2 separate regions of the Homo sapiens genome follow, and region 2 is linked to region 1. Evidence: fine-mapped expression QTL. A gene starts in region 1. The other region holds a variant in brackets. All regions are shown on one strand. Distances are from middle to middle.

Region 1 (12,206 bases):
TATTAAGCATTTCTTAAAGGCTAGATCTTTATTAAAGGAGTTTTCATGACACTGTCCATACCAAGGCCTCTTGCTCTGTGAGTCTGGTTTTGTTAGAATTGAGTTGGGGGCCTGGGCGTGTCTTTACATGAAGCTCTCTCGGGGGCTGTTTTTATGAGTTGATGAACTGTAGCCATAATACACAGTAGAAGAGACTGAATTTAGTGAGAAACAGAAATGTCTTTCTTGAGCAAAGATTTTGTTAGCAAAAATAGGGCAAATTTTTATGTAATATTTACAAATTAAACTTTTGAACGTGTGAAATGTTTTTGTTACAATTCAGGGCTATACAAAGTTAAAGTGAATAGTAAATACAGAAAGAATTGTAGGACTTTAGAAGAAATGTAACCTACAGTGGTCTAGACAAGATGGAGAAAGACAGACTGATAAAATATCTTATGCAAGAGACATAGCTAGGTATTGAATTAAGATGAAGACATATGACAAGAAGTTGTAGAACTGGAAATGCAAGGCCATGTGGGGACTGTCAGAAGATTAGCCTGAAGGCCGGGTGCGGTGGCTCATGCCTGTAATCCCAGCACTTTGGGAGGCCGAGTTGGGCAGATCACCTGAGGTCAGGAGTTTGAGACCAGTCTGGCCAATGTGGTGAAACCCTGTCTCTACATAAAATACAAAAAATTAGCCAGGCGTGGTGGCACGTGCCTGTCATCCCAGCTGCTCGGGAGACTGAGGCAGGAGAATTGCTTGAACCTGGGAGGCGGAGGTTGAAGTGAGCCAAGATCGTGCCACTGTACTCCAGCCTGGGTGACAGAGCAAGACTCCATCTCAAAAAAAAAGAAAAAAAAAAGATTAGCTTGAAACTGGTCACATGGAGGCCACAGTTAGAAGATATTTGCTGGGAAATGGTGAAGTGGGAACTTAAAGTGGATGCGTCATGGTAATGGTAAAACTTTTATTGTTCAGCTCCTGCTGTGAATTTTCTGTGCCAGTAATTCAGGGTAGTGGTGGAGGTAAAGTTTTGTATTTTTCTAGCTCTAGGTAGAGCTTACCTTTCACCTGGTGGCAGTACTATAGCAATCATACTGTATAGCTGATGTTCTAAGAAAAACTAAAAGTAAAGCTGCCTCAAGTCTTGATTCAGAAGTAGGGAGGTGGTCCTTGAGGGCTCCATTCACCGATGCCAACAGAGACATAAGTACAAAATTCAGAGAGTAGAGGCTGTTAGTGGCAAGGTGAGGAATTAGTATATTAGGGACAGCAAAGTGGAAAAAAAATCCAATATGACATCTGTGCAAGTAGGGCATGATGAAGAAGGTGACAGTTTCCATATTTGGTGCAGTGGCAGAGCTGTGTGGAGAGGACCACGTGTTCTGCTTGCATGTTCTGAAAGTCCATAGGGATCACCCTGTTTCTCTTTCTGTTGGAACATATGAGAATATATCATAGCCAGGTAGATACAAGGTGTTAACCAAAAAATTGAGGAGGCAAAGAGAAACTTTATATTCTAACAAAAGATGATTCGCAGATCTGAGTGGTGTGACTTTGAGGAAGTGGAAAAAACACACATCACTGAAGAGGGGAAACTTTTTTTTTTTTGCCTTGCAGGAGGCTTTTTGCCTTCTAGGATTTGCTTTGCATACCTATTCAGTGAGAGATGGGGAGTCTTATGAATATCTTTATGAGAATCAGCAAACATGTGCATAGTGAGCAAACATATATGTAACATATAATCCACTTTCATTTTGGAGTGGAGTTTTAACATTAAAATGAGGTGGAATTTGACTGTATGCTAGCAGGTCTTTTACAGGATATAAGAAAAGTCTGCACAGACTCCGGCAGCTGACCAAAACAGCTGGTGTTTATCAGGAGAAGGATATTGAGATCAGTCTCCTGTCCAATCATAGCTGCAGTTATGGCCTGTGGAATGCTGTTGGGGGTGAGGGGCATCAGTTAGTCAGCATCTGGTGGTCCGGGAGCTGCAATTGTTTCAATATTGCTTGTCCCAAGGCCAGTGTTTGTTTAGCTGCTACAGAAAAAGAAACAAAACAAAACAAAACAAAAAACACTCGTGGCAGTTAGAACATAGTTTATTCTTTAAATGTAGGGGGTGTGTGACTTAACCCTTACCTGTATGTCCTTAGACCTAGTTTATAGTTTGGTATCTTATTGCTACAAAGAGTCTGTTCCATCAGTCTTGTGATCTCTGTTTTAACAAAGGTTAGAGTATTGACTGCAGTTTTCCTGGAAATATGAGATTGGTGCTCTAGGAAAGTTAGCGTGATGATGGTCTACAGAATGGAGAAGGGCATATTTTAGCACCCAACAGTCTAATAGGATTAGGATGAAGTCAAAGGCTGTGTATCCAACATTCTAACTTGCCTTTCTGGGATATTTATTCTACTACCTATGTCTGCTGTTTCCCTACTCAGGATTATTCTTTTTTAAATTAAAAAAAAAGTTTTTGTAGAGACAGTCTCCCTATTGTAGCCCAGGCTGGTCTCAAACTCCTGGGCTCAAGTGATCTTCCCACCTCACCCTCCCAAAGTGCTGGGATTACAGGCATGAGCCACTGTGCCTGGCTGGCAAATTTTTTTTTTTTTTTTGAGATGGAGTCTTGCTCTGTTGGCAGACTGGAGTGCAGTGGAGCGATCTTGGCTTGCTACAACCTCTGTCTCCCAGGTTCAAGCGATTTTCCTGCCTCAACCTCCTGAGTAGCTGGGACTACAGGCACGTGCCACCACGCCCAGCCAATTTTTTTGTATTTTTAGTAGAGATGGGGTTTCACCATGTTGGCCAGGATGGTCTTGATCTCTTGACCTTGTGATCCACCCGCCTTGGCCTCTCAAAGTGCTGGGATTACAGGCATAAGCCACCGCACCCAGCTGGCAAATTTTATCTTATATGTATTTAACTACAATTCTTAAAAGTTTTTTTAACAGATAGGGAACACTTATACTTGGAATTCCTTCCATGTTGGTATTATAGGGGTTCCAGTAAAAAGCCAGCCAACCCCAAGGCATCTTTGAAGCAGTTTTATTCCGTGTGATGATCATGGAAGGATTTATTGTTCTCTCTCTTAGAAATTGAGAAAGCTGATGATCATCTGCAGCAGCCCTTGCAAAACCAAAAAATACTGAAGAGGACGGGACAACGCTATGAACACGGAAGAACTTTGAAATCATATTTAGGTTTAACCAACCAGAGCAGAAGATACAACAGAAAGGAGCCTGCTGAGTTTAATGGAGATGGAGCTTTTCTCCATGATAATCATGAACAAATGCCTACGGAAATTGAATTCCCTGAAAGTAGAAAACCCATCAGCACCAAGTCACAATTCCTTAAACATCAGCAAACACACAACATAGAGAAAGCCCATGAATGCACTGACTGTGGGAAAGCTTTCCTCAAGAAGTCTCAGCTCACTGAGCATAAGAGAATTCATACAGGAAAGAAACCCCACGTGTGTAGCTTGTGTGGGAAAGCCTTCTACAAGAAGTACAGGCTCACTGAACACGAGAGAGCTCACAGAGGAGAGAAACCCCACGGGTGTAGCTTGTGTGGGAAAGCCTTCTACAAGAGGTACAGGCTCACTGAACACGAGAGAGCTCACAAAGGAGAGAAACCATACGGGTGCAGTGAATGTGGGAAAGCCTTCCCCAGGAAATCTGAGCTTACTGAACATCAAAGGATTCACACGGGAATTAAGCCCCATCAATGCAGCGAATGTGGGAGAGCTTTCTCCAGAAAATCACTACTCGTTGTACATCAGCGAACTCATACAGGAGAGAAGCCTCATACATGCAGTGAATGTGGAAAAGGCTTCATTCAGAAGGGCAATCTCAACATACATCAACGAACTCACACTGGAGAGAAACCTTATGGATGCATTGACTGTGGCAAGGCCTTCAGCCAGAAGTCTTGCCTTGTAGCACATCAGAGATATCATACAGGAAAGACTCCCTTTGTATGTCCTGAATGTGGGCAACCCTGTTCACAGAAGTCAGGACTCATTAGACATCAGAAAATTCACTCAGGAGAGAAACCCTATAAATGCAGTGACTGTGGGAAAGCCTTCCTTACAAAGACAATGCTCATTGTACATCACAGAACTCACACGGGAGAGAGACCCTATGGCTGTGATGAGTGTGAGAAAGCTTACTTCTATATGTCTTGCCTTGTTAAACATAAGAGAATACACTCAAGGGAGAAACGGGGGGATTCAGTGAAGGTGGAAAATCCTTCCACAGCAAGTCACAGCTTAAGTCCTAGTGAACATGTGCAGGGGAAAAGCCCTGTTAATATGGTAACTGTGGCAATGGTGGCAGGGCAGTGTGAGTTTGCCCACATCCTGCATTCATGATAAACAGTTTGCTGTTTGATCATATAGCCTCCAGCGGAATGCTGAGTTTGTCATGTCCCATGGGCCTTTGGCTCCCTGCACTAATATGTATAGTAGGGTTTACAAGATATGAAATATATTTTACTTTTTTATATCTTATAAACCTCACTACCCCTCCCACAATATTGTTTTTCATTTACTATCTTGATCATAGAGTTTGGCTGGGGAGGGGGGCAGTTTTAGAGGCTTCCACTTGGTGTTCCTCAGAATGATATCTCTTACTCCGGGGGCCAAGGTAGGGGTTAGCTTTTGTTCTCTTTGTAGTTTAGATTGTATCTCTTGCCTTGTTCAAGTTCACAAATCTTTTTGTGTATACACATATGTACATGAAAATGATGTTCATGCTTTTTATTATTTTACCCTTCATTATTTCATTTTTTATAGTTCTCATAGCTATGTCTTTCAGTTCACTAATCTTTTTTCCACAGTGTTTAATCTGTCATTAATCCCATCCAAAGTATGTTTTCTCTCAGAAATTGTAATTTTTAACCTCTAATAATTTGACATGGGTTTTTCCCTGTTATATCTTTCATATCTTTATTTATCATGGTTTTACTTTTAACCTATTTATGCTTTCATATTTAAAGTGGGTGTTTAGTGGGCAACATACAGTTGGGCCTTCCTTTTTTATCCAGTTAACAATCTCTGTCTTTTTACTGGGGTATTTAGATCATTTACGTTCAATGTATTGATGTTTTTAGGTTTAAATTACTAACTTACTATTTGTTGTTTATTCTATGTCTTCTTTGTTCTCCTTTTCTTCTTTTTCTGCTTTCCCTTAGAGTAGCTGAGTGTGTTTATATTACATATTGTCTCCTTTGTTGGCTTATTAACTGTAAATCCTTGTCATTTGATTCCTTGAGATTTTATAGCATACATCATTGTGAGGGATTGCATATTTATGTCCTCTCCAAATTTACATGTTGAAGTCCTAATCCCTAAGGGATGGCATTAGGAAGTGTGACCTTTGGAAGGTAATTACATCTTGAAAGTGGAACCCTCATGATGAGATTATGTGTCTTATGAGACAACACAGAAGAGAGTTTGTTTTCTCTTTCTCTGCTCTTTGCCATGTGAAGACAGAATGAGATGACCATGCATAAACCAGGAAATGGACTCTCACTGGACACTAGACCTGCCAACACCTTGATTGTGTTTTAGAGTCCAGTTCTAGAGACTCCTCAGCCTCTGGAACGTGAGAAATGAATGTTTGTTAAGGCAGTCAGTCAGTCTATGGTGTATTTTTTCTAGTAGCCTGAACTGACTGAAAGAAAATCATGAACTTATCATTCTAACTTCAAGGACATTATATCACTTACTGTATAATAAAATAATCTTACAGTAGTATATCTCTATTTCCTGTGACCAGATCAGTGTCAGTGAAGAGATTGTCTTCTAGATGCTACTGGAATACATATTTGAGGTATGGGTAATCTTGATTTTACATGATAAATTCATTCTAGCATTCCAAACTCCATTTATCTTTGGGTACTTTATAATATATGAGGAAATTTCTGGCATTTAAACTTCATTTAGTGTAGGCAAATTTTGAGTCCAAGTTTCAGTCAACCAGCCAAGTCAACAGTTAGCACCACTCAATTTAGCTCACACACTGAAATTGCCAGTAGAATGTAATCTCCATGAATGAGAGTCTTTGTGCCTGAATTTCCAACTGTTGTATTCCCAGCACGCACAACAGTGTTTGACACATTAGGCATTTTATAAACATTCGCTGGATAAATGAGTGAATGATCAATCCCTTTAAAGGTTCTCTGAGGCTGGTTATAAAATTATAGGGAGCAGGTTTGGTGCTAGAATTCATCAGTTAATTGATCAGCTGAGTTTCAGTATTGAACAGAATCATCTCCCCTTCAGAGTTTTGATTTCAAGTTGCTCCCACCTTCCTGGATGTAAAGGCTTGTTCTGCCTTTGGCTTTTCCAGGGTGAGAGAGCCCTGTTTTCGTGTTGGTTCCCCACTTTGTCAACTGCTGATCAACTGTGTTCTCCATTCTCCACACCAATTATAACCAAAGCTTTAACACGCGGTTGTTTTATCCATTCTATGACTGACTCCTTCCTCTGAGGCTACATCTGATGTAGATGTAAAGATACTTCTTAGGCAGTTCTCAAAGGCTGCTTTCTCCAGCCAGATGCATCCTCAGGAGTAATAACCCCTCCGATTGTTGCTCAGGTCCCTCCCTCTTGAAATTCCTGTAAGACTGCCGCGCCACATGGTTTCTTTCCATTCTTCTTAGGATCAAAGTGCCTAAATGTCTGTGACCATCTCTACCCATCCTGTAGACAGATCAGGGCAGGCTTGAGCCTTTGAGAAACTAAGCAGTTTATGTAGCGCCCCTGGCTAATGTTGCAAAGCCAAGATCTAGCAGTTCACGTGGACTGGAAAAAGGGTGAAATGGGTCGTTTTCAATTGCTTTTCATCGTCAGAACCTACCTGTCTTAAGGCGCGAAAAGAGGGACTCCGCCTGCTCTACGGCAGTAGGGTTGAAAATGGCTGCTCCCAGCAAGCGTCCCCTGGGCGCAGACATATTGCATCATAAAGGGACGGCTGGTGCCGTATTCCGTGTCTCCGGAAAGACGCAGTATGGCCCTCGCCGGCCGCCATCCCCGAAACTTGCGAGTGTCGCGTCTGCAGTGTGTGGGGTTCGCGGGGCGGCGGGTAGAGGCGAGTGTTTAGAGACTTCGGGTCCCTGACTCGCCTCCAGCAGTGGAGACAGGTCATCGGTCTGGTCTGCGTGGGCTTCTGGGAATGTTTCAGGGGCAGGGAGAGCGCGCTTTTTTTTTTCTGTTGTTCGCTAGCGCGTGAGGTCCGTGTTGCGGGGAGCTCTCGGGGAGTCCTCGCTCGGAGTTCGTTTCGCAGTCGTGTTGGAGTTCCCAGAGTCTGGGAGCCCATGGTCTCCGCATTGGAACCAGTGCTTGGGAGGTCTTCGTTGCACAGTAGCGCTAGGGCGTCGTGGTGGGGAAGCGAATCGTGTCAGTGTTGGAGACTGCTCTGGGCAGTTCGTGTTCATTGCTTATCACATGCGTACTTAAAAAGGGGTCTGCTGGTCCCCTTGCTTCCCTGCTGCTGTATATTCTGTAGAAAATGGGTTTTCAGGTTCATTGCGACCCAAGTAATAACATCCCCATCATTTTAAATACTCCTCCAGAAAATAACTCTGGTTTAGTGTATTTCATGTTTAATGTTGGGATCAGGTGTCTAGGTATTGGTATAATTTTATTCGTCTTTAATAACATCTTGTCAACTTCGTATTCCCATATTACATGCTCTTTGAGAGTTTTTTAAATTGCTGCAGTTTCATCAAGTGGTTGCTTTAATTTGGGTAGAATTGATGTAGATCTAGATACAACACTTTCAGGAACATGTGATGGATTTCTATTAACCCAATATTTTTATTTGTTTGACTATCTGTAGTGTTTTTCCATACGTATCTTGGACATTTCTGGTTATGCTTATTTCTACATAGTTAATACTTTTTGTTGTAAATCGTGACTTTTTTTTTGCATAAGACCCCTCCCCCTTTCCTTTTTTGTTCCTAATTTTACTTAGTTGACAAGAACAGAAGTTAAAAATATATATGTTTATTCTGTCACTTCATTGTACTCATGTCATTACATATAACTTATAAATTGACGTCTTTTTTCTAGTTGAGCATTTTTGTCATCTGCAAATAATTTTAGCCAGGTGGCAAGTGTATGGACTGTGGAGTAAGAAGTACCTGCCTCTGCCTCTGACTTGGGTACGTTAATCTCTGAGTCAGTTTCCTTATTTGTGGAAAAAAGCTGTCATAGTTTCTTTTTCATGGAATCATTATGAAGATTAAGTGAGCAAATGTTCTTTAAGTATGTTCAAAGTGTAGTACTAGGTACGTAGTATGGTCTGAATAAATAATTACTGTGATTTATCAAGTTTTTATTTCTCTTTCCTAAGGGCTTTTGACCATTACAATTATTTTCATTTATTTTTTTCTCTTTAAAATTTTCTTTGATTTGTGTTGCTCTATTTCCCAATTTCATGTATTCCTGAGGGAATAAACCATACTTGTCAATAATGGTTTGTTCTTTTAATATGAGACTGGATTTTATTTGCTAAAATTTTATTTAATATTTTTGCATCAAAAAATGAAAAGATATCTTGGATTAGCTTCGGAATAATCCATAATCCATTGCTGGAGAGGGACTGAATGGTGGTATAGATAAAACAAAATTAGATGTGAGTTCGTCATTCTTGAAGTCACATGATGAATATGTGGAATTTGAGTATACTGTTCTTTTGCTTGAAATTTTTCATAGTAGAAAGTTAAAAAATTTTTTTGCCTATACATTTATAAGAGAAATTGGTCTCTTAAGTTTTTTTCAAGTGATTATACTTGAAAATCACCAGGTTAAAAAAATAGAATAATGTAGCATCCCAGAAGCCCTCATCTTCTCTCTCCTCTCCAAAGGTAATTATTATCTTAAAAACATCATAGATGTGCTTGGTTGTCATCTTTATATAAATGAAATCCTAAGGTACACATTCTTTTGTGGCTGGCTTCTTTTGCTTAATATTTTTGTTGTGAAAATCATCTAAGTTGCTGCATATAGCAGTAGCTCGTTTCTTTTTCATTACTGTGTAGTATTCCATTGATGATTATACCCCATATTATCCATTCCACTATCAAGAGACATTGTTATGGCTTATGGGAGTTATGAGTATTGTTGATATGAACGTTTTTCTACATGTCTTTTGGTGCATAAAAGTTCTATTGAGGGCTGGGCATGAGAGCTCACGCCTGTAATCCCAGCACTTTGGGAGGCTGAGGCGGATAGATCACCTGAGATCAGGAGTTCGAGACATCTGGCCAACATGATGAAACCCCATCCCTACTAAATACAAAAATTAGCAGGGCGTGGTAGCGGGTGTCTGTAATCCCAGCTACTCAGGAGGATGAGACAGGAGAATCACTTGAACCCAGGAGACAGAAGTTGCAGTGAGCTGGGATCATGCCATTGCACTCCAGCCTAGGCAACAAGAATGAAACTCCATCTCAAAAAAAAGTCAATAGAGCATATACTTAGTGTGTTAAGTATAGAGGAATGGAGTATGCTAGACACAAGGAGAAACCGCAAATGCCCAATCATAATGGGAAATTCTTAACATACTTCTCTCAGTAACTGAGAGAACAGGCAGACAAAAAGCTAAAAGGGTATAGATTAACCATTGCTGGCAAACTTTCTGTAAAGGTGCAGACAGATGACAAATATTTTAGTCTCTGCCGGCTAAATGGTCTTGTCTGCATCTACTAGGTTCTGCAATTATAGAATGAAAGTAGCTGTACAGAATGTGTAAACAAATGGGTGTGGCTGTGTTCTGATAAAACATTATTTACAAAAACATTCAGCTAACCCACAATAGTCCCAACCCCTGAAAGGTTAGAATGACATACCTAATTAACAAACTTGACCAATATAAAACACTGCACTCAATAATTTTCCTCAGATGCACATAGGACATTTATAAAAAGTCACCGTATGGTTGGCCATCAGGCAAGTCTAAATACATTTCAAATGATTAAAACCATATAGAATATTTTCTCTAACTATAGTGGAATTAAGCTATAAATCAATATCAAAATGATTTATTCACCATAGAATAGTCATGTGACTTTTTGGAACTATCAATTCAGAACATGCTGTTTTCTTGTCAGAATGATTGTTAATTATGCCATACGCTTCTAAATAATCTGAGTTCAAAAAATCACAGTGGAAATATTTTCAATTGCATTTTAATAAGAATTCTACATGTAAACCCTTGTTGAATTTAACCTAAGCAGTCAGTGGAGGAAATTTATAACCTTGAATGCAAGTATTAGAAAAGAAGGAAGGATGAAAATCAATGGAAAAGCACCTATCTCTATAATTCTTTTTTTTTTTATTCTATTGATTTGTGTTTGGAAATGCTGGTTTTATATAATTGTTAGAGAGGCTTCACTTTTTCTGTGATTGATGAATGTTACATAATATTGGAGTCATCTCTGTACTGTAAAGATTAGATAGAACTCATCAGGCTCTGATGACTCTAACTTTTTTTCATGGAAATTGAGTATAATATTTACCCATAACTTAGCTTCAATGGTTATCAATTCATATTCATCTGTCATATCAGTCATATTTATCTGTGCCTCCACTTTTGTTTTAGTCTGGAGACTTTCATAGCAAATCCAAGGCTTCATGCCTTGAAACTTGTACGTATCCCAGTATGAATCTCTAACCAGTAAGGTCATTAAAAAAATTTATAACCACTAGACCATTTCCTTTTTGTTTTTTCTTTTACAGACAGGATCTTGCTATGTTGCCCAGGCTGGTCTTGAACTCCTGGGCTCAAGCAGTCCTTCTGCCTCGGCTTCCCAAAGTGCTAGGATTACGGGTGTGAGCCACTTCACCCATCCTAGACCATTTTCAGTGTATCCAAGTTAATAATAATTTCTTTCCTTATCTTTTTGGGTGAGTGGACTCTCACTCTGTCACCGAGGCCGGACTGCAGTGGCGTTATCTTGGCTCACTGCAATTCCCACTTCCCAGGTTGAAGCAGTTCTCCTGCCTCAGCCTCCCGAGTAGCTGGGCTTACAGGCATCTGCCACCACACCAGGCTAATTTTTGTATTTTTTTGTAGAGATGGGGTTTCTTCCTGTTGGCCAGGCTGGTCTTGAACTCTTGACCTCAAGTGATCTGCCCATGTCGGCCTCCCAAAGTACTGGGGTTACAGGTGTGAGCCACTGTGCCCAGCCTATTTCTTTAGTTCATTGAATAGTTAGTCCACATTCAGTTTTTTTCTGATCATCTCATCATTGTCTTTTAACATTGGATTGTTTGAATCATGATCCAAATGATGTGGGTGCATTCGATTTGCTTGTTGTATCTCTTAGATCTCTTTAATTCTATAACAGCTCCCCCTTTTTTTTTCTTTGTTTTTTTTGCCCTCATGCCTCTTCATATGTTGCAGTAGGAAGTACACAGCACCATCCATGAAGGATTCTTACCTAAAAAAATTGAACATGGGACTAATCAAACCTCTAAGTTGAACTACTCACTTAATTAAAAGGAAAAACTGGGAGTTGGGTAGGTAGAGAACAACAAGTTAAACTATACCATGAGGCTGGGAGCAGTCGCTCATGCCTGTAATCCTAGCACTTTGGGAGGCTGAGGTGGGAGGATTGCTTGAGGCCAAGAGTTCAAGACCAACCTGGCCAACATAGCGAGACCTTGTCTCTATAAAAAAAAAAAATTTGGCCAGGCACAGTAGCTCACACCTGTAATCCCAGCACTTTGGGAGGCTGAGGCAGGTGGATCACAAGGTCAGGAGTTCAAGACCAGCCTGGCAAAGATGGTGAAGCCTCGTCTTTACTACAAATACAAAAATTAGCCGGGCGTGGTGGTGGGCACCTGTAATCCCAACTACTCAGGAGGCTGAGGCAGAGAATTGCTTGAACCCGGGAGGTGGAGGTTGCAGTGAGCTGAGATCGCGCTACTGCACTCTAGCCTGGCGACAGATTGAGACTCCTTCTCAAAAAAAAAAAAAAAAAAATTTTTTTTAAAAAGCCCACACAAAATGATACCCTGATACAGCAGTCAGCCATATCCAAAGGTAGGACATCATATGGGAGAAATCACCTGTTTCCTTCCTCCCTGCTTCATTCCTCCCAAAAGCAGATAAGGCTGAGGGCTTGTAATGGTTTGGAAGCATCCTAACTTTTATTTGAAGTGGAAGCCTTTTTTTTGCCTTTTGTTTTTTTTGAGACAGGATCTT
Region 2 (12,206 bases), 27 kb after region 1:
ACTCAGGGCATGGGTCTTACCTAACCTTACTCTGCTGACTTTCTCCTTTTACACCCCAGATGAAACTTTTTTAGGTGTGTAGGTGTCTGTGTCCTATGGAGTGTCCGGAACTGGCCTATTAACAACTGCATCACTGTTAACAGAAAGCTTCTAGAACAGTGTCTACAATGCAGTGCTTTGAGGACTAAGTCAGCAACTTTTAAAAAGAACTTCTATTACAAGTGGGAAGATGATTTATGTATAAAGAAATTTGACACACTTAAAAACCTACAACTGCTGGTGCACAGATTTACAGATTCCATCCACTTTGTCTTGATTCCCAGTTTAGAACTTGGGTCTGTAAATACTAGAACCTGCCAGACCTCAGAGTAGAAATCCAGTGTCAGCTCTCCCACCAGAACTTGCCTGGCTCTGATCCCATGCAAGGGAGAAGACATTCCAGGTTCTCATTGCCTTTTTCTGTATCTGTATTTAGGGGTGGGGGTAGAGGACTAGAAATTCCTCATTGGTGCTGATTAGTCTGACCTCTGAGGGCTTTTTCCAACCCTAGCTTTGTTCTTTTTGTTTGTTTGCTTGTTTTTGTTTTTTGTTTATTTGAGATGGAGTTTCGCTCTTTTGCCCAGGCTGGAGTGCAGTGGCGTAATCGTGGGTCACTGCAACCTCCACCTTCCGGTTTCAAGTGATTGTCCTGCCTCAGCTTCCTGAGTAGCTGGGATTACAGGTGCCTGCCACCACACCCGGCTAATTTTTTTTTTTTTTTTTGTATTTTTAGTAGAGACGGGGTTTCATCATGTTGGCCAGTCTGGTCTCGAACTCCTGACCTTGTGATCCGCCCACCTCAGCCTCCCAAAGTGCTGGGATTACAGGTGTGAGCCACCGCGCCTGGCCAGCTTTGTGTTTTTAAAAAGTTGTCCTTCATTAAGGGAGGGAAATTGAGTAATTGTCACAATTCTAAAAGCTGGGCCTCTCTCTGACATGTCTTCTTTTCTCTTGAAAAGAGATCTTTTGTCCGATGTTCAGAATCAGAAAAGACAATATCTAGATCATACCTTAGAAATGATATCCTTTTCCTAAGAACCGAAGAAAAAAACGATAAAAGCCCCGGTGAGGTTTTGCTTCTTTCTTTTGCCTTTCTTTCCAATGACTTTGCAAGGCTTAAGACAAATAACTATTAAATGGAAATACATACATTTGTAATTTAAAAATTTAAGGAAAACTAAACAGAAACCATAAAATCAAGATTCAGGTAAAGGTGGAATGAGGAAATGTAGCTTCATACAGAGTGCCTTAAGTGTGAATACAGGTGAATAAATATGTAAGAATGTATGATGTACTTAAGTTGTTTCTGATTCTTTCTTTTCTTTCTTCTTTCTTTCCTTCTTCCTTTTCTCTCTCTCTCTCTTTCTTTCTTCTTATCTCACTCTGTCACACAGGTTCAGTGGCACGATCATGGCTCACTGCAACCTCTGCCTCTTGGGTTCCAGTGATTCTCTTGCCCCAGCCTCCTGAGTAGCTGGGATTAAGGTGTGTGTCACCACGCCTGGCTAATTTTTGTATTTTTAGTAGAGATGGGATTTCACCATTTTGGCCAGGTTGGTCTCAAACTCCTGACCTCAGGTGATTTGCCCATCTCAGCCTCCCAAAGTGCTGGAATTATAGGCATGAGCCACCACAACTGGCCTGTTTCTGATGTTTCTGGTGTCAATAATGTATTAATTTTCTGTTGATGCCAAAACAGATTCTCACAAACGTTTAGCAGCTTGAAACAACACAAATTTATTGTCTCACAGTTCTTTAGGTCAGAAGTCTGGATTGGCTTGACTGGTTTCTTTGATCTGGGTTTCAAAGACTGAAGTCAAGGTGTGGGCCAACAGGGCTCTTATTGGAAGAATCTGGGAAGAATCCACTTCCAAGCTTATCCAGGGTATTGGCAGACTAATTCTGAGATTTGTTTCTTTGCTGGCTGTCAGCTGGGGGTGGTTCCTTATGTATTTATTTTACTTTTTTTTATTTTTAATTTTTATTTGAGACAGGTCTTGCTCTGTCACCCAGGTTGGAGTGCAGTGGTGCAATCTTGGCTCACTGCAGCCTCTGTCATAGTAGATGTTGAATCTGCCGAGCTGAAAGTGTGTCAGTTCCAGAAACATTTCTGTGCTGTTCATAGACACCTCCCATCAAGCCCAATTATAAGTGTTCAAGTCTTTGTCATTTCCCATAAACAGGCTCTTAAGCTACCAAACCAGATATCTTTAATTTTTTTTTTTTTTTAGATGGAGTCTTGCTCTGTCGCCAGGCTGGAGTGCAGTGGCGCCATCTCAGCTCACTGCAATCTCTGCCTCCCGAGTTCAAGCAATTCTCCTGCCTCAGCCTTCTGAGTAGCTGGGATTACATGCGTGTGCCACCACACCCAGCTAAGTTTTGTATTTTTAGTAGAGCTGGGGTTTTACCATGTTGGTCAGGATGGTCCCAATCTCCTGACCTCATGATCTGCCCGCCTCAGCCTCCCAAAGTGCTGGGATTACAAGTGTGAGCCACCGCACCCAGCCAGTGATATTTAATTTCAAACATGGAGAATAGAGGATAAAATGTGAGGTCAGTGCATTTCAGGTGAGTGAGAACCAACAAGATGGGAGACCTGGAAAGTAAAGGAGCTGACCATGAGGGTTGGACCCCTTCCAAATGTGTTTAACAGGGCAAAGACTTGGAAGGTGACTACAGATACCTAGATCATTGATGAGGCTCTCTTTTGTTTGGCGTTTCAAAGAAAATGTGCCTTTTTCTCTCTTTATATTGACTTAGATTCTCACAATCGACACATCATCACAGCACTGCCTTTTATCCTGGGGTAAGGATATTTGGCCTGATTTTTGTATTTCCTACAGACCTGAGTGAATCATATGAGAATGTATCAAAGCAACCTAGAAGGTGGGAGTGCTCACCACAGTGGTGTTCCTGTATATATGGTGTTAGAAATCTTTGGGAAGGCGCGGGCATGGTGGCTCACGTGTGTAATCCCAGCACTTTGGGAGGCCGAGGTGGGTGGATCACCTGAGGTCAGAAGTTCAAGACCAGCCTGGCCAACATGGCGAAACCCTGTCTCTACTAAAAATACAAAAATTAGCTGGGCATGGTGGCGAGTGCCCTGTAATCCCAGCTACTCCAGAGGTGCGGTTGGAGAATCACTTGAACCCTAGAGGCGAAGGTTGCAGTGAGCTGAGATTGCGCCATTGCACTCCAGCCTGGGTGACAAGAGCGAAACTCCGTCTCAAGAAAAAAAAAATCTTTGGGAAAGTTCATTGACTGTTGCATGCAGAATTAAAGAAGAATGAATCTGAAACAGAGTGACAGCACTTACATTTATGTGAAGAGCTGAGAAGACTTCATTTTATCTTGCTTCCCACAGATGTTGGTTCCTAAGACTTAAGTTGGCCTCTTTTCTGGGTACTTATTGTTTGAGCGTGATGGATGGACTTTTTCCATTCTCTGGGCATCTCCTTCTCCCAAAGCCTTCAGAGTTGGAGGGCGTAAGGGTGCTTCATCATTGGTAATTTCTTTTCTTTGTTCCCAGTGTGACCTCTTCGATTTCATGGACTTAACAATGCTATTTATATGTTGATGACTCACAGATTTCTCTCTACAGGCTAGATATTTCCTTATCCTCCTACATTTGCCTGGGAATTGCTTGGAGATCTAATAGCTAACTCAAACTTCAAGTCATCCTTGCTTCACCGTTTCACTCATCCCACAAATCCAGTCCATTTAGCAAGTTTAGACTTTACTTTCTCCTTATATCTCGAGGTCCTCTACTCCTTTCTCTAACAGTTATTTTCACTCAAGCTTCGATGTCCATTATCTCTTGCCAAAATTATGATAGTTTTCTCTAATATACTCTCAGTCCTTTACTCTTGTTTCTATTCTCCACATAATACCCTTAATGAATTTATTTTACTATTTTCATTTATGAAAATAAATGCGGGAGTCAGGGGCGGGAGTCAGGGGCAGGAGTCAGTGTTTCTAGCCCCTCACCTCCAAAATCCCTGAACATTAAAATAAACATCAGAAACATCTTGGTTCTTAAAAGACTTCAGATTTTGACAAAAGTGTTGCGGAAAGTAATTAAAGCTTCATATAAAAAGGTAAATCTTAGTTGGAGGATGGAAAGATCTAAATTATGGTCTAAAAAATGCTATATGATGTAGCAAATCTGTACTCATTCACAGGGTGCAAGCCTAAAAATATTCATGCCATAATATTTAAGACATGGTCAGTGTTAATTACTGATAAACATACACACAGGATGTTGCTTTTAAATTGGAAATCAGGACATGTCATCCTGCTCCCACTATCATTGGTAATGGCATCCTGTTACTGTTAGCACAAGATCCAAATTCTTTTCAGGATCCTCCTACAAGGGAGCATTCCCTGATTTCGGCCTAAACGTTTTTGTTTACTTATTAATGAAAAATGTTTTGGTATAACATACATATAATGTAATTATACAGCTAGGTAACTTTCTAGTCAGCACACTGTGCAACCAGCACCTAGATCAAGAATCTGAGTCCTGTGCAGAATGGCATTGGGTGAATATTACACTGTTTATCTCTTTTACATTCAGGCCATTATACTTAGTGTCCCTATGTATGTTTTCATCAATATCTTTATTTTTATTTTCTCCTTTTGAAAATGCTTGTCTCCAAATGGTCTAGATTTAATGAGATGTTCCAAAATGATACACAAAATTCTTGCACATTCTTTTTGCAAATTTCCCCAAAATATGATTTTACCAATTTGCTTTATTTTATCTATACACACACACCACACACAGGTACATATGGTTTTTCTGAACTCTACCCTAAAACCCAAGTGTGTATTTCATAGGAAGAAGAGCATTCTTTTGCATAATCAGAATACTGTGATCAAAATCAGAATATTGACATTGATATAGTATTATTATTTAAAATACAGAGCTTACTCAAATTTAACCATCTTACTAATATCTTTTTATGGTAAATGGGAAAAGAAGCCTTTTTCTGGACCTCTTCTTGTTATCTCACTTACTCTGTTGTGCGTACACTAGCTTTCATAACATCCAGAAGTCAGAGCTTGCTAATTATAACCAATTCTTTTTGGAAAGAAATCATATGGATGCAGTGAATGTGCAGTGAATACTTGTAAACTACTCATGACCATGCCTCAGAGAACTCATGCAGGAAACAAATCCCAGGAATCTCATGATTTTAGGAGAGCCCTTCCCAGTGAGTTAAAGCTCATTGCTCATCAGCAAACTCAAACAGGAGTGAGACCCTACTGATGCAATCAATGTCAAAAAGCCTTCATTACAAATTCAGGGCTTGTGTATCATCAGAAAACTCATCATAGAGAAGGGAAAGTCTGTACATGCAGCAAATGTGGAGAAGTTTTCCCTTGGAAGTCAGAACTCATTTTATGTCAAAGAAATCATTCAGGAGAGAGACCGTTCATTTGCAAAGTATGTGATAAAGGCTTTGTGGTTAGGACACATCTCACTGTACATCAGAGAGCTCACACAGGAGAGAAACCATATGCTTGCTCAGATTGTGAAAAAGCCTTCTCAAAAAAGGCTTTATTCATGATTCATCAGTGAATTCACACAGGAGAGATACCCTATTAATGCATTCAATGTCAAACAGCTTTGAAGACCAGATCTGAGCTCAGTTATCCTCAGAAAGTTCTTCATAGAAAAGGAAAATTCTATGGATGCAGTAAATGTGGGAAAGCTTTTCCTTGGAAGTCGAACCTCATTTTGCATCTCAGAACTCATTCAGGAGAGAGACCTTTCAGGTGCAAAGTCTATCATAAAGCCTTCATGGTTAGAACACAGCTAACTATACATCAGAGAACTCACACAGGAGAGAAACCATATGCTTGCTTGGATTATGAGAAAGCCTTCTTGAAAAAGGCTCAGCTTATGAAGCATCAGTGAATTCATACAGAAGAAAGACCCTATGGATGCAGTGAATGTCAAGAAGCTTTCATCTGGAAGTTGGATCTCAACAATCATAAGAAAACTCATCATGCAGTAAGGAAATCCCATGAATGCAGTGAATGTGGGAAGGTTTTATCCTCCAAAAAAAACTTTGTTATACATCAGAGAACCCATACAGGTGAGAAACCCTTCAAATGCAATGTATGTGATAAAGCCTTCACATCAAAGGGAAATCTCATTGTATATCAGAGAACTCATATAGGAAATAAATCATATGAATGCTCAGACTGTGATAGGGCCTTCTCCAGTAAGGTATATCTCATGACTCATCAGCCAATTCACACAGGAGAGAGACCCTATGATGCAATGAAGGTCAACAAGCTTTCACCCAAAAGACAGGTCTCAGTAAGCATCGAAAAACTTGCCATGCAAGAATGAAATCTTATGGATACAGTGGATGTGGGAAGGTTTTGTCCTGTAAGTCAACTCTCATTATATAACAGAGAACCTATACAGGTGAGAAACTCCTCAAATGTAGCATGTGTAATAAAGCCATCATAGTTAAATCCTGTCTCACTGTACATTAGAGAATTCATACAGGAGAGAAACCATATAAATGCAGTGATTGTAAGAAAGCATTCGCTACTTTGTAAACTCTCATTGGTCACCAGAGAACTCACACAGGAAAGAGGCCCTATAGATGCAGTGAATGTCAAAAAGCTTTACTCAGAAATCAGCTATTACTAATCATCAGAAACCCCAGCAGGAAGGAAGAAAGTCCATGCAGTGACTTGGAATATGAGAGAGCTTTTTTGATTAGTCACATCAGCTCAGACACAATAGAAGTTCCATGAATACTATGATTGTAATGGGCCCTTTTGGAACTCTTGTGGGAGAGAAACCTTATAGATGCAATGAATATTTTAAGCCTTCTTTTTTGAAGATATCCCTCGTTTACCGTAGAGATCTCACAAGAAGAATCATTGGCCAGGCGCATTGGCCCATGCCTGTTATCTCAGCACTTTGGGAGGCTGAAGCAGGCAGATCACTTGAGGTTGGGAGTTCGAGACCAGCCTGGCCAACATGATGAAACCCTGTCTCTACTAAAAATACAAAAAAAAAAAAAAACAAATAGCCAGGTGTGGTGTGCACACCTGTAATCCTAACTACTCAGGAGGCTGAGGCAGGAGAATCTCTTGAACCTAGGAGGTGGAGGTTGCAGTAAGCCGAGATTGCACCAGTGTACTCCAGCCTGGGTGACAGAGTGAGACTCTGTCTCAAAAAAAAAAAAAAAAAAAAAAA[G/AG]AGAGAGTCAATTATGAGTGCAGTGATTGTCAAAAAAGTTTATTAGAAAACTAGAAGCTTTCCATTTAGTAGGCAGCACCAGTGGATGTAATGAAAATGATAAATCATTCTCAAATTATATTTGTTACACATTAGGGTATTCATTCAGGAGAAGGACCCTACAGATGGAGGGAATGCAGGAAAGCTAAGAAGAATCACACCTCATTGCAGGTAAAAATTAAAATCTGAAAGTCAAAACTCTTTGAATATCTTGTTTACGAGAGAAATCTCATAGATACAGTGAATGTGATTGTGATAAAGTCTTCCCAGTTAATGTTTATCTTTCTTGTTATAGCAAACTCATACAAGAGGAAACCCCTATTAATATAGTAAATGTGGTAAAGCCTTCATGTAGATACCAAAGGTCACTAATTATATCAGCAAACTCATGTGGTAGATAGGTCCTTCTGAAACGGAATGTGGAAAGCTTTTGAAAGTGACATATACATCAGATACTTAAATCAGAAGGGAAAACGATAGAGTTAAACTTGGCCATTGGCCACAAAACCCATTGCATAGCAGGAAAGAATTGCAGTGATTGTCTAAAATTCTTTATTTAAAATTCAGAGCTGAATTGCCCCCTAACTCAGTTATCAGAAAGATCCTATTCTCGAAGGCAATAATATTTAGGTTCAATGCAGGTATAAAATCCTAATGGAGCCATATCTATTCTGCTTCAGCAGAGTCATACATTTACCTAAAAGCAATGGTTCTGGTCACAGGAAATAATTTCTGTGGAGGATTAGATAGCATTAAACATCACAAGCTTTTAAATATAGGAGCAGAATTTGCTCCATACAGAGATTTTATGAATGCAGTGAAAGTGGTAAAAGCATCAGTGATAAGTTATTTTTTATTTCATGGATTCACTTCTTCACATCCTACCATGTCTTAAATTGTGAAGCATCTTATGATCTGGAATGTCATAGTAATTGTCAGGGCTTTTTAAATGTGTGATGGCACTTTAGATTTGAGTAATTACCCTTGCCTGTATATATAATTTTATAATGGTTTTGCATAATTATTATAGAAAGGATTCCAGAGAATATTCTATAAATATTAGACATTTCATTGTCAAATATTCCTTTTGAATATATGAAAAATAAGAATATAATAAGGATTAGTCGAATAGTGACAAAGGATCTTAGGGGTTGTGTTGTGGACTGTACTATGTGACATGTACTTTATATATTTATAAACTTCATTGTTTACTTGGAATTACACGAAGAAACAATTTTCAGGGTTAAAGAAATTCTCAACATAAGACAAAATGTTGAATAATTCAATGTAGTGCAAATAAAATGTTTTTTTCTTATGAATCAAAATGTCTTGTAATACATATTTGACTCATTATTAAGGAGTCTAAAGGATTATACCACGTAAGTGTGAATTCCTTATTTTTGCTGTCATTTGTAGTATTTTTGCCCACTGTGATGATCCATCACAAGTAGAAGTTTACATTTTTCTAGAGCCTTATAACTCTGAAACATCCAAAGATTATAAAAGATTTACCTAAAATATTTAAAAACCAGCAACACATTAGAGTAATGGAAGAAAAAAGTGTGAGGTTATATGAGGTGAGTTTATGGCTATATATTTCAAGTTTGTGTCACACCGAAACTTTTGATTTGTTATGATAATATGCCATTCCTTTGGTGGTTCCTCAAAAAGTTAAATCCAGACTTACCATATGACCCAGGAATTCCATTCCTAAGTAAAATACCCATGAGAATTGAAAACAGGTACTCAACCAAATATTTGTCCATGAATGTTTATAGCACTGTTCACAATAGCCAAAATAGCATTTGGTTGAAAAAACTCAAATGCCTATCAAAGGATGAATAAATAAAATGTGCTACATGCATGTACACATGAATACATAAATGGTCAGTTATACAAATGAATGAAGTACTGATGACATGTTGCATGAATGAGCCCCAAAAAACATACTGAGTGAAAGAAGCCAAATGCAAATTCCACATTTTATACTTTCATTTATATCAAATACTCTGAATAGGTAAATCTATAGAGAAATAAAGCAAATTAGTGGTTATTGGGCACTAGAGGGGAAGGGAGAATGCAATCTATCTGCGTAGTATGTATGGGGTTTTCTTTTAGAATGATGAAAATGTTTTTGAACTAGATAGAGATGGTGGTTGCATAATATTGTGAATGTGCTAAACTTCACTGAATTGTACACTCTAAAATTGTTAATATTTGAATTTTTACATGAAGAAAAATATATTTAAAAAGAAAAATATTGCATGAACTCTGGCACTTCAAATATGGACTTTTTTTTAACAAAATGAGACTTACTTGACTGAATCTTCTATAAAACTTCTAGTGGGTATTCTAGTTATTAAAAAGCAAGGTTTTTTTTTACCTCCATGTGAAATAACTGACTTATTTTGGTTATCAGTGAAACCTATTGTTTTGCAAGGAATTCTGTAAAAATGTACCAGCAAAATCTTGCTTATTTTTTTCTCTAGATTTTTGCCCCTTCCCCATTTTGTTTGACAGTTGTCAAGAAATCTTTTCTTCACCATTTTATTATGAAAATCTTCAGACATAAAGATGTTTAAGGAGTACTAAACACTAATCTGGATTTGACCATTGCAACATTTTTCTGTGTGTGTTTGTGTGTGTCATATGTTCTGACAACCTCCTATTCACCCTGGTGCATGAGGGAGGGACTCCCTACCCTAAGTAGTATGGAATGGCTGAACACAACACCTGACACTGGCTAGATGAAATTGACAGCAGTTTATTAGTCACAGATACAGCCTGAGAGAAATGGTCATTGCATATAGGTATTGCACTCAGGAATAGAGTGAACAAGCACGGAGATTGTGGGAAGTAGGCTTTATATAATGAGAGGGTAACGTGCCCATGGTTTCTGTGGAAGAATGCAATTGCTTTGTATAATTCCATGGGCTGAATATAGATTGAGGACCATGTTGGGTGCAGCTAGTTCAGCTGATTGGGGAGTTAGCTGGGTGGGAGCCTTTCCTGTGCAGTGGGAGCATATCTGGTGAGAGTAAGGGAATTCAAAGATAGGCCTTCAGGGCCCTGTAAAGCTCAAAGACTAAAAGCAGGCCAGACACAATGGCCCGCACCTGTAATCCCAGCACTTTGGGATTACAGGTGGATCCTTTGGAGGATCCCTTGAGCCCAGGAGTTTGAGACCAGCCTGGGCAACGTAACGAGACTCCATCTCTACAAAAAATTTTAAAATAATAATCTTAGATTTGAAAGCAGCACATGAGATAATAGGTTCTTAGAGTTTTGTGTGTGTGCGTGTGTGTGTGTGTATGTGTACAGATATATATGTATCTGTATATTTCTGGTGAGCAGCCTGAAAGCTACAGTCACTTGCCACTTGAGCAGTTCTCAGGCAATCACCCACCCGAAGGCTGGTGGGTGGATGAGGTTCAAAGACAGAGCTTTGAAGAACATCGGTTTCTCCTGCTTTCTGTATTGGTTCTTCAACCTACAATAAAAATCTTTGTTCTTAAACATGTAGAGGCCCTTCGGCATATCCCCAATTCTACCAAGATATGAAATTGTGGTCTATGCTCTTCTAAAAATCCTGAAACATCTACTGCAAAATACACATTTCTTCTCCTTCCTTTCTTTGTTTTTTCTTTTCTTTCTTTCTTTCTTTCTTTCTTTCTTTCTTTCTTTCTTTCTTTCTTTCTTTCTTTCTTTCCTTCCTTCTTTCTTTCTCTCTTTCTTTCTCTCCTTTCTCCTTTTCTTTTCCTTCCTTTCTTTTCTTTTTTGATGGAGTCTCGCTTTGTCGCCAGGCTGAAATGCGGTGGCACGATATCGGTTCACTGCAGCCTCCGCCTCCCGGGTTCAAGCGATTCTCCTGCCTCAGCCTCCTGAACAGCTGGGACTACAGGCGTGCGCCATCACACCCAGATAATTTTTGTATTTTTAGTAGAGATGGGGTTTCACCATGTTGGCCAGGATAGTCTCGATCTCTTGACCTCATGTTCCGCCTGCCTCGGCCTCCCAAAGTGCTGAGATTACACAAAATACACATTTCTCTTGACTTTCCCAGATGTTGTCTTCATGGACTCATGGTTGGAGCTGGTGTCTACATGGTAGAGTGAGGCGCATTCACACCCTCAGCAGCTCCTACAGATTCTCCCCTGAGGCAAAAGCCATTCAAATCATGCTGCTTCTAGGAAGTACTTTCATTTCGTTTTACTTTATCAGTTCTATCCTGCTCATTCATAATGCTGTTCTTTTCCAATCAAGCCTCTGGCTGCAATATACTACCACCTTTCATGCAGTATATTATCCCTCCCTCAGCCCCCCGATCTTGATGTTCAAGGTCCCCGAGCACCAAGTTTCTCGTCTTAAATGGTGAAAAAAAATCCAAAATTACTGATGGTCCTGTTCACAACAGTGTCTCTTCTTCAGAGAATCTGGTTATTCACTTAAGAAAGCAAGGGTATGTGGATGTCTAGAATATGACAGACATACACCCAAAATACGGATAATTAAAGGATTTGTATGACATTGACTTAGCGATGTAGAGGCTTTACTCTTTACTCAGAAGGCAGGCATACAACCAAATAAACACAAAACTGTCTGTTAGCATTATCCTGATGTTCTCTGTATTTTTTCTTTGAGATACTTGATGGAAGCATGGAGGTGAGGTTGGGTAGAAATAATCTGGGGACATATTCGAATTTTTAACAGTTCATTAGCACAATTATTAAATTGGTGCAGTATTATATATTGATAAACAGTAATGGCTTTGTGTATCAACTGTATAACCCATGGTAAACCATTTAATCATTAGAAGACTTAGGGTATTTACTTGTAAAGTTAATAAATTTTTATCCCAGAGATTACTGTGCAAAAAATAAATTATGTGATAAGGCATGAT

What was found. PIP is the estimated chance that this variant, and not a neighbour inherited with it, causes the effect.
Region 2: its variant is fine-mapped to the expression of ZNF577 in fetal neocortex (Walker 2019, PIP 0.95). The same link has a PIP of 0.9 or more in prefrontal cortex.

The regions. Positions count from the first base shown.
Region 1 is chr19:51,882,772-51,894,977 of GRCh38, reverse strand. It overlaps ZNF577 (zinc finger protein 577), which reads left to right and starts at 7,027. Exons shown (of 6, transcript NM_001370449.1): 1 at 7,027-8,157. ZNF649 (zinc finger protein 649) reads left to right here. Exons shown (of 5, transcript NM_023074.4): 5 at 3,081-5,743. The coding sequence ends at 4,360. It overlaps ZNF649-AS1 (ZNF649 antisense RNA 1), which reads right to left and starts at 6,953. Exons shown (of 3, transcript NR_110733.1): 1 at 6,852-6,953. RefSeq lists an enhancer at 6,903-7,754.
Region 2 is chr19:51,856,175-51,868,380 of GRCh38, reverse strand. ZNF577 (zinc finger protein 577) reads left to right here. Exons shown (of 6, transcript NM_001370449.1): 6 at 1-1,333. It also overlaps the pseudogene VN1R98P and the pseudogene LOC100419706. Among named protein-coding and RNA genes, the nearest start is that of ZNF577, 26 kb to the left of the region's middle. The variant G/AG (reference allele first, on the strand shown) is at 7,268.